2 separate regions of the Homo sapiens genome follow, and region 1 is linked to region 2. The links come from fine-mapping of genetic effects on gene expression. Tissue or cell type: blood mononuclear cells. Region 2 holds a variant in brackets; the other region holds the start of a gene. All regions are shown on one strand. Distances are between the middles of the regions.

Region 1 (4,741 bases), 96 kb before region 2:
CGAACACCCGACCTCAGGTGATCCGCCCACCTCAGCCTCCCAAAGTGCTGGGATTACAGATGTGAGCCACCACGCCTGGTTAATTTTTGTATTTTTAGCAGAGATGGGGTTTCACCATATTGCCCAGGCTGGTCTCGAACTCCTGGCCTCAAGCGATCCACCAGTCTCGGCCTCCCAAAGTGCTGGGATTGCGGGTGTGAGCCACTGCACCCGGCCCAAATAGGGTCATATTCTGAAGCACTGGAAGTTAGGGCTTCAACATATCTTTGAGGGGGACACATTGCAACCCATACAGTATTCTTGGAACTGTAAATCGCGTTTTTGTACTAGAAATTCACTGCCCCTTTAGGCACTATGTATTCCTCTAATCTTATTTGTTACTCTTTTACGACTTTAAGAAATACAGAATTTGGTCAGTTTTAGCTGAGAGAGTAAACTTTGATGACTTGCATCAAACAGGGACTGGCACACAACTCCTGGAATTTCCAGTAAGAGAATGTGAATGGGGGACAGTTGCCGACTAGGTGCCTGAAAGATCATTTTTCAAGAAACACGTCAACAAACTTTGAGGGATACATGATAATTAAAAAACTAGCTTCAACCCGGGAGGCGGAGGTTGCAGTGAGCTGAGCCAAGATCGTGCCAGTGCGCTCCAGACTGTGCGACAGAGTGAGACTCCGTCTCAAACAAACAAACAACTAGCCCTTATAATCTTTTTTTTTTTTTTTTAGACAGGTGCATCTTTACACAGTTAAATTTCACTACTTCTTTTTTTGCAGATAAAAACTCAGGAGTTGAGAAATGAATAAACATAATAATAAATATGAGAAAACCATCATGATTTATCAAGCCTGGATAAATAATTTAATAAGTTCAGCATAGAAGACCTTGCTTTTTTTTCTTTCCTCCTTTTCTTCTTCTTTTTTTTTAACTTATTTATTTCAATAGGTTTTTGGGGAGCAGGTGGTGTTTGGTTACATGAATAAGTTCTTTAGTGGTGATTTGAGAGTTTGGTGCACCCATCACCTAGGCAGTGGACACTGCACCCAATGTGTAGTCGTTTATCCCTCACCTACTCTCACCCTAGCCCTTATAATCTTAAGATTTTTGGCTATTTAGGGCCATCTCATTCCTCCCTCCCTTCTTTGTTGCATTCTCTCTCACCTACTCCATTCCCCCCACCTTCCAAGTAAGACCATCTTTGGTAAGATGGTCTTGGTAAGAATGTGATACGCATTATAATAATTTTTCAAATCTTCAAAATTGAGGTATAATTACATACAATAAAATGAGAATGGCATGCAAATTTGTGCCTTTTTTAAAGCTTAGTAAATGTCATAATTTGGTTATAGTTTTTATTTTTCTGGATGCATTTGCTTTTCCTTACATCTACCATGCTCAGCCTTACAGAGATTTTTCTAGATGAATTTGCTTTTTCTCACATCTACCATGCTCGGCCTTACAGAGCTGCCCTTTATTTTAGAATTCCCTAAAGTGCTGTGTTGTACACAGGGAGCTTCTCCTGACTGGAACAACCTTACCTGGTACCACTCTTCCTTCAGGACCCAGATTCTTCTTTGAAACCTTTCCCTGGCCCCTTTGAATACTCTAGCTCTTTTAAAATGTATGTGGTTCTTTTTTCCCTGTTCAATTATTAATCTAACTAGGTTGTGAGTTCCTCCTCCAAGGACGTGAGGGTGCGATGTAGCTTGTCTGATTTTGCATTCCAAGTGTGTGCCCCAATGCCTGACACATAGTAGGTGCTCAATATATGTTTACTGTCAATAAGTTACAATTAACACCCCCATATGGTAATTCAGAGTTTTCATAGCGCGGTCAAACGATCTCATTTAACGCCTACTACAACCCTAAAAAATTCTAATTACTACCATCCTATCATTCTTGTTTGTAGAGTGTGGAGACTGAGAGGTTAACTGTCTTGCCCAGCGCAAGTCAACAGCAAAACGGAACTAAAATTTCAGGCTCGACACCACACAGCGTGTCGAGATCAGCACGAACTTGGCGCTGTGACTTTTCCTTAGAGGGGCCACTTAGGCTTACACTTCCGGATCCTGGGCACACAGAGACGCGAAAAGCTCCCGCGGGAAACTGGGGAGCGGGACTACATCTCCCAGAGAGCCCCGGGGCTAAACAGCAGGTGATTGGTTGATATTGACAGCCAATGCGGCTGCGAGGAGCTCGGGCAGACCAATCACAGGCCGGAAGGGGCGGGACCTCCCACGCCGAGGATAGATTGAGCGCAGAACTAACCGCGCTCTGAAAGGTTCTAAATGTCTGCGGGGCTCAGAGCCGGATGTCACGTCGTCCTCCTCTGCCGGTTTTCTCTTGGGTCCTTTTCCGTGCCGTCCCGCGACTCCGCCTCTGGCCGCGCGTGTCTGGCTGCTAGGCCGACACCAAGGACTGGCCGGGTACCCGGGAAGAAAGCACGTGCTCCAGCAGTTGCCGCGCCCAGCCCCGAGAGAGGCCCTAGGGCGCTGCGGGCTTTCGGGGTCCGCAGTCCCCCCGCGACGCGAGCCAACGGGAGGCGTCAAAAGACCCGGGCCTTGTGTGGCAGGCTCGCCTGGCGCTGGCTGGCGTGGCCCTTGGCCGTCGTCACCTGTGGAGAGCACGTCTTCTCTGCCGCGCCCTCTGCGCAAGGAGGAGACTCGACAACATGTCACCCGCGCTCCAAGACCTGTCGCAACCCGGTAACGCTGCGACCCCGTCTGCGTGGTTGGGTTGTGTTTCTTAACTCGTGCTGTGGCCTCCTAATCCCTGGGGCGATTCCCTTCTGCGGCGGGAGACGCCCGGCGGTGTTTCCCCGCGTGTGGGCGGCACCTTTAGAACTTAGCGCAGGAGCCCGGAGGGCTACGTGTTTTGCTCCACTCTTTGTCCGACCTTCACCTCTTTCTCCCCAGGCAAGCCATCAAAACCTGCAAAAAGCGTCCTCCCCTCGCCCCCGAAACACATTCTTAACGTCACAGTAACTAAACTTTCCAGTTCCACGCAGCATAAACCAGCTGGGCCCTCTGGAAGTTTTTTTTTTTGCATGGTGTGACGCTTATTCGTAAATATGTATTGCGCACCTACTGCGAAAGAAAGTTCAGGCGCGGAGAGACAGACGAGGAAACTCAGAGAACTATTTAAAACTACTACATGGAACTTTTTATTTTCTGCTTCTACGCACGCTGCTGCAAAACTGCAATATGCATAGACTCACTATGTTAAAATAGATGAGCAGACCCCACCTCCAGATACCGAAATGGGAGGTAGTAATTTCAAGCGATTCTGATGTTGGTGGCCCTGGGATCAACAGTGAGAAAAAGCTAGTTTAGCACGAGAACTGAACGTAATGTTAGCTTTATAACGAGCTCTAGATCTCTAAGGTCATGCCTGATTATAATTTGAGGACAAATACACCCGTAAAAACGGGTGAGGAGATGTAGAAACGAGAATTAGTGATAAGTACAAAACAGTAAATATCCTATCACATAGTGGGGATGTTTAGCTTCAGGAAGAGGGGGAATACTAAATTCGTAACGCACAAGGAAATTTATCAGAGGTTAACCGGTGACTCTCTTGATTCTTGGGTTCTGATAACGGGACTGATATAATTGTTCTTGAAACTAGTGGAACTGTGGCTGAGAAACACATCACTGCTGTTATTAAATAAGATATAAACCTCCCTATGAGAGGTTTATATGTTATTTAATATATTAAATAAGATGTAATGAGGTTACATCTTATTTATATTTAATATTTAATTAATAAATGTAAACCTCCCTATAAGAGATTTATATCTTATTGAATAAATGATCATAGGGAGATCATATTTATTTGGAAAACATCTTTTACTCATGATTTCTGGCCTCCCCCTTCCCATTTAATTTAAACAAGTAAAGTTATTTCCCTTTCATCTGAATTTAGGTGTCATTATCAGGAGCAAAATGCCACTGAAGACTTAAAATACTGTGAATAGTGAGTGATTTAAAAAAAAAAAATAAACTGAAAGGAAAATTGTTGAATGTTTGAATCTTGCCTAGTCCCCTCACCCCCAAGGCTGGCTTCTAGAGTTGAGCACTGAGTGGAGTTTAACCAAGTCTAGGGCCTCTGAAGTTCTGAATCAGGCCATTGTGCCTAGAAAAGACCTTAGATGTAGTCCAGCTTCTGTCTATGTGAGCAACTTTTATTGGGATTAGAATCAGGTTTTAACTTCCTAATAACCCTTAGTAATTTACTGGCGTACAATCTTAATGAAATTTTAATGGAGAGCTGGGAATTCCTGATTCTCAAGGTTGGGCCTTAAAACTAAATGTGACTTCAGACCATGGTTGTGTGCCCTGGGGAAGGAGGATGGTGGGCTAGCAAATACATCTTGGGAGAAAATTTTAACTACAGCTTCTAAAAGTTTCTTGGTTTCATCCTTGCTTAGGACTGTGAGTGTTATTTGGAACTCAATTGATGAGTGATTAATGAAGGAATGAATAATCCAGTGAATTGGTATCAATTGATGAGTGATTAATGAAGGAATGAATAATCCAGTGAATTGGTATCAGCCTAATTCTTCTCCGGCTTATTAAAATCAAAGGGGGAAATAATATATATTAAAAATGGAATACTGCACAAGCAAAGAGATGCCCCCAAAGAAGCTGGGCGCGGTGGCTCATATCTGTAATCCCAGCACTTTGGGAGGCCGAGGCGTGCGGGTCACCTGAGGTCAGGAGTTCGAGACCAGCCTGGC
Region 2 (5,573 bases):
GTCCTGAATTTGGGACTTCATTTGCCTATACTTTGAGCATATGTGTCAGTAGACAATCTAGATGATTGTTTCCGGTTTTGAAACTTTAGATAAGTAGCTTACTCTCCATGTCTTTCTGGACATGTTCTTCATGTTCTTTCATGTTCTTCATGTTCACCTTGTCTTCATTTGTGCAAGTGAGGATTAACCCGTCTGTCTTTCCTTCTTGGGCAGGGGGTGGGGATGGAAGGGTTGAGGGAACAGTTTCCAAGGGTGGTGTAGTCAGCTGCATGTGAAGAATAGTTTTATTTAAGACTCAGTGCAGAATTACTCCTTCTCCACGATAATTTAAAGTTCCCCTCTTTGTAAAACAACTCCTACGGGTGACAGGAGGGAGGCGGAGTGTGGGAGTTGGCAGAGCAGTGAGGAGCTGGCAGGGAGGCCTCCATCAGGCAGGGTGCCAGCGTCAGCATTGACAACCATACTTCTCTCCTGTAGTGAAGCCCACGTTTATTGGGACCCAGGTCTTTGAAGACTATGACCTGCAGAAGCTGGTGGACTACATTGACTGGAAGCCTTTCTTTGATGTCTGGCAGCTCCGGGGCAAGTACCCGAATCGAGGCTTTCCCAAGATATTTAACGACAAAACAGTAGGTTAGTGCAGTAAGTCCTTCCTTTCTGCCTCTGATATTCAAGCTGTGGGATTGTGACTTTGAAGACCGGAATCGGTGAGGAGCAGTGGATTTGGATTGTGCAGATTACGGCTGCTTTCATATTGCTCACCTGCCCAACTTTTTAATGGTTTTCAATCTGCTAGATTGGTCCTTATTGCATCAACTAAATTTGGTATTTACTTTATTCTTTCAATAAATGTTTATTGACATCAGTTACATGCTGAGCACTAGGGATAAATGGAAGACAATATAATCCCTGCTGTCTAGCACCTGACTAGCTGGCACATCCAATAGTAATGGGCCCTGCCTGGGCTCCTGTGGACATAAGAGGAGATAGAGCTCAGACTGGGAGGTCAGGGCAGGCTTCCTGGACAAGGTGGTGTTCGAACTGTTTTTGACGATTCAGTGGGAGTTGCCGTGGCTGGGACTGTGGATGTGATATGGTGTTGAAGAAAAGGTCATTCCAGGTAGAGGAGACAGTGTGAGAAGGCACAGGCACATGTGCCTATTTGGGGAACTGCAAGGAGCCCATTGTGCTTGGAGCATTGGGGAGGGAATGGGGATTTAGGGTGATAAACTAGAGAAGTAAGTGAGGTGTTAAATTACTACCCCCACTTCTCACTTCTAGCCTTACCCCAGAATCCACCGACAGAGACACGGAATCCAAATGCAAAGCCATTCAAAGGATCAGGTAGTAGCCAGATCAGAGCAGCAGGGAGGGGTAGACTCACAGAAGCATGGGATTAGGGCTGAGAGGAGCCTAGAAACCAGCCTTTTGCCAAGTTTCCCACGGGGGGGCGTGCCTGGGTGTGCGTGTTCGGATGCTGAGACTCAGGAACTCTCAGGTAGTCAGGAACGTGGTGATGAGCAAGGGGCTTCTTAGTGTGCTGCCCCTGAATCATCACAGGTGAGCTGTCCAGGGGCCGTGGGACAGGCTTCTCACCATGGGCAGGGTGGCCGAGTCTCACGGAAACCGAGATGGTGTCCTCGGAGGCTGGCTCCCACTGCAGGTCCGGGAGCAGGCCAGCCCAGGTGCAGCATTGAAGCCACATGTGAGGATTTGGGCCACACTTCACCCCTTACCACTAACGTTCCCTGTACACATACAATTCCACTGACTTCACAGCGACCTCTGGGGGACGGGGCCTGTGCCTTATATTCACCATGCTTTGTATTCTGTGGTGTCTGGGCCTGGACGCATACAGTGAGGATTTACCGAGTCTGAGTGCATAGGGTGAGGATGTAGCTGTCCTTGTTTAACTCTTCATGGTACTGTTGAAGGCCCCAAATTGAAGAATCCCTTCAGAGGTTGTTACGGTCAAAATGTCAATCGTTACGAATTATATTGTAGTTGGGATTAAAAGCACCACGGAATACGAGGCACAGGTCGCGTCTCCCAGAGGTCACTGCAAAGTCAGTGGAGTTGTATGTGCACGAGGAATGTCAGTGAGGAATGTGGCCTGCTCTTTCTCATCCTCTCTGACAGAATGCTTTGGGGAGCCACAGCTTTGGCTCTCTGCTTTTTGTCCAGTGGAAAACTTGAGTGGCTTGAACTGGGAGAAGCAGACTGTGGGAGCTGCACTTAGCAGGAGCCGCAAAGCCCTGGCTGTTCCACTTTAAGCTGGGTCAGTGGCAAACACCAGAAAGCATTTGAGGAAAATGGAGAAGCCTGAAGAGGGAAGGTGACTGAGGAGGGGTAATGGCTTTTAAAAGAAGCATTGTTTGATGGTTATTTTTGGCATCTTTAAGTGAATTCTAATTCTGTTTTTCTAATAGGTGGAGAGGCCAGGAAGGTCTACGATGATGCCCACAATATGCTGAACACACTGATTAGTCAAAAGAAACTCCGGGCCCGGGGTGTGGTTGGGTTCTGGCCAGCACAGAGTATCCAAGACGACATTCACCTGTACGCAGAGGCTGCTGTGCCCCAGGCTGCAGAGCCCATAGCCACCTTCTATGGGTTAAGGCAACAGGTATGGAAGGTGTACTGACAGCCAGCACACCGCTTTCGCTTGTGAGTTTAAGCACTACACAAAAGAGCTTTGCATAAATGAGGGTCTGCTTCACCTCCTCCCAAATGACCAATCACATGCCCAAGAAGTGACCAGTCACACGCCCAAGCCCAAGCCATCTGTGAGGACGAGGGAGAGAAGGCGCCACCATGGGTGTCAGAGGCAGGACCACTCAGCAGGAGTGAGGCGTTTAATATTGTGTTCCATGGATGGGCGAGGACCATTGCTGCTGTCTCAGGTGGTCACGTGTCAGGATCTCAGTCTTCTTAGCTTCTGAAGAAAGAGAACACTCACTTGTTCAAAAACGTAGGTTAATATCTATGCATATTATTAAAATAGACTGTCAGGTGGCTTCCCTTGAAAGGGGAAGACAGGTGGAAACAAACATTTGCAGAATGTATACCAGGTGCCAGGTGCATAGTAAGGTGCTTGATGGTCATGCTTTTAATTTCCACACAGCCGTGTGAGGCAGTTTAAGTTTGTGTTTTACAGAGAAGATGAAGGATGATGGAGATTGTGCTGGGCCCCCCAATATAGAGAGGAGAGCCCAGCCTGTACATATCCCCAGTGGCCGTTCTTTGACTGTGCTGGCTTTTTTTCTTTCGAGTGACGAGAACAGACTCTTCTCAGCAACTT[G/C]TCTCTCATCCCCCCCACCTTTGAAAAGGCAAATATCATATGCATGTCCCTTTAGCTGCTGTAAAAAAGAGTGTCTTAATCAAGAATTGGAACCAGAATTCACCAGAGTCATTAACAAATTTAATAATTTGCAGAAAATTACTCTGTTTTACTGCCATTTTCAGTCGTTCAGAAATAATAATGTTGGCTGGGCACAGTGGCTCACACCTGTAATCCCAGCACTTTGAGAGGCCAAGGTGGGAGGATTGCTTGAGCCTAGGAGTTTGAGACTAGCCCCGGCAAGATGGCAAGACCCTGTCTCTACAAAACAAATTTAAAAATGAGCCGTGCACTGGGGAGTGCAGGCCTGTACTTCTTCAGCCAGCTACTCGGGAGGATGAGGCGGGAGGATCACTTGAGCCTAGGAGATCGAGGCTGCAGTAAGCCATGATCATGCCACTGTATTCCAACCTGGGCAACAGAGTGAGACCCTGTCTCTAAAAAACAAACAAAAAAGATAGTGGCGCATTTTAATCCCAACCACAATATAATTCATAATCATCCATATTTTTACCATAACAGCATCTGAAGGGATTCTTAAATTTGGGGCCTTCAGCAGTACCATGAAGAATTAAACAAGGACAGCTACATCCTTACCATATGCACTTAGGCTCAGTAAATCCTCACTGTATGCGCCCAGGCTCGGACGCCACAGAATATAAGGCACTGGGGTTCTAATGTTAAGTTCCAGCCCCTCCTCACTAGGGAATTTGTGGCTATTCTTTTACAGACATAACTGTTCAAAAACCTCTGCTCTAGCCCAGTCTTTCATCTTTCAAGTCCTGTGTCCTCTGCGATCTCTTTTTACTTTCAGTACCATTCATGTCCGGGCAGTCTGTGACATATTAGGGCATTTAATAGAATGAATTCTCAGAGTTCACCTTTTTAGTAGCCTCTGGAGAGGGGAACTGGGCCAGGCACATACATTACCTACCCAGGTAGCAATTTCTCAGGAGGGGCTTTCCTCCAGTGCACTCTGGAACATTCTGGTGGCAGTGCCTTATTACTCTGGGAGTCTGCTCTTCTGAGTAGGCTCTGATTGCTGTCTCTTCGAAGGTACCATGGGGCTCTGTGATCTCTCTCTCCTGTGGCGCAGGGAAGCTTTGGGTCCCCCTCTGGCCTTTGTTAGCAAAGAATAATTGATGGGCCGAGTATACCTGGAAAACGGCTTCCCCATGCACAGCTGTCCCTGAGCTCTGTGACATTCCTGTGTGCCATTACCAAACACCTCCTCGCCTGTACTTAACAATTTCCTGCCCTGTGTCAATGAAGCTGTACTTGCTTCCACGGCGGGCAACGAGCTGTGAAGTGTGTGGGTTGGCCACTCATTGATTAATTGATCAGTCCTGAGCAGTACCATATATGTAGACGCATGGGTTGTGGTACCAGCCCCCTGGCCCCTCCCACTGTCTGACCTTGGGCCAGTTGATCAAGCTTCCTATGCCCCTGATTTCTTGTCTGTAAAATGGAGCTGATGGTATCACCTATGTCACAAGGTGGTTGAGAGGGTTAAATAGTAATTCATATAAAGCACCAAGAGCAGGCATACAGTAACCACTGAATGAGTATTATAAGCTATTTACCTTCTCAGCAAATATTTATTGATTTTTTTAATATGTATAAGACTTTATTTGTTACCTTAGTTGCAGGGAAGAGTTGCTTATGAGCTGAGGGTGAAAAATGGGGGAGGGTAGGCCCCAGGGCTGTGGAGAAAATCCAGAAGCAAATCCTGCTGAATTCTTGGTTTGGTGCCCAGCCAGCCCTGGGTGTCCTCAGCCGGCTCCTGTATGACCCTTGACCCCACCCCACATGGCAGGCAGCACATGGCCTGGGCATCGCTGACCCCAACAGTTTGTTGTTTGAGCTGCTGCTGTTGATGGAGAGTGGAGGCGCTTCCATTTATTGGATCTCTTTTGAACATGGTGCTGGACTTAATTGAAAACACTTGGGGACAAATTTTTTTTTTTTTTTAAACCGTGACTTTAGCACAGTGCCTGAAGGCATTCAGTAAATGTTTGGTCAGTGTGTGAATGAGCCAGTGAACTGGTGTCTTGACAATTTATGTTACGTCATGTCATACATTTTTTAAAAATCTCATTTCATTTGTTTATCTTACAAATATTTATTGGATACTCACTATGTGTCAGACACAATTCCAAGTACTGGGGATGTAACAGTGCACAATACAGGCTGCCATCTGTGCGTTGTGAAGCTTATTCTCATTTGACGATAC

Evidence for each region. PIP is the estimated chance that this variant, and not a neighbour inherited with it, causes the effect.
Region 1: MTR starts here. The variant in region 2 is fine-mapped to the expression of MTR in blood mononuclear cells (TOPMed, PIP above 0.99).

The regions. Positions count from the first base shown.
Region 1 is chr1:236,793,030-236,797,770 of GRCh38, forward strand. MTR (5-methyltetrahydrofolate-homocysteine methyltransferase) reads left to right here and starts at 2,263. Exons shown (of 33, transcript NM_000254.3): 1 at 2,263-2,708. The coding sequence starts at 2,675. RefSeq lists enhancers at 2,289-2,578, 2,679-2,868.
Region 2 is chr1:236,888,704-236,894,276 of GRCh38, forward strand. It overlaps MTR (5-methyltetrahydrofolate-homocysteine methyltransferase), which reads left to right. Exons shown (of 33, transcript NM_000254.3): 28 at 478-633; 29 at 2,430-2,626. Among named protein-coding and RNA genes, the nearest start is that of MTR, 96 kb to the left of the region's middle. The variant G/C (reference allele first, on the strand shown) is at 3,302.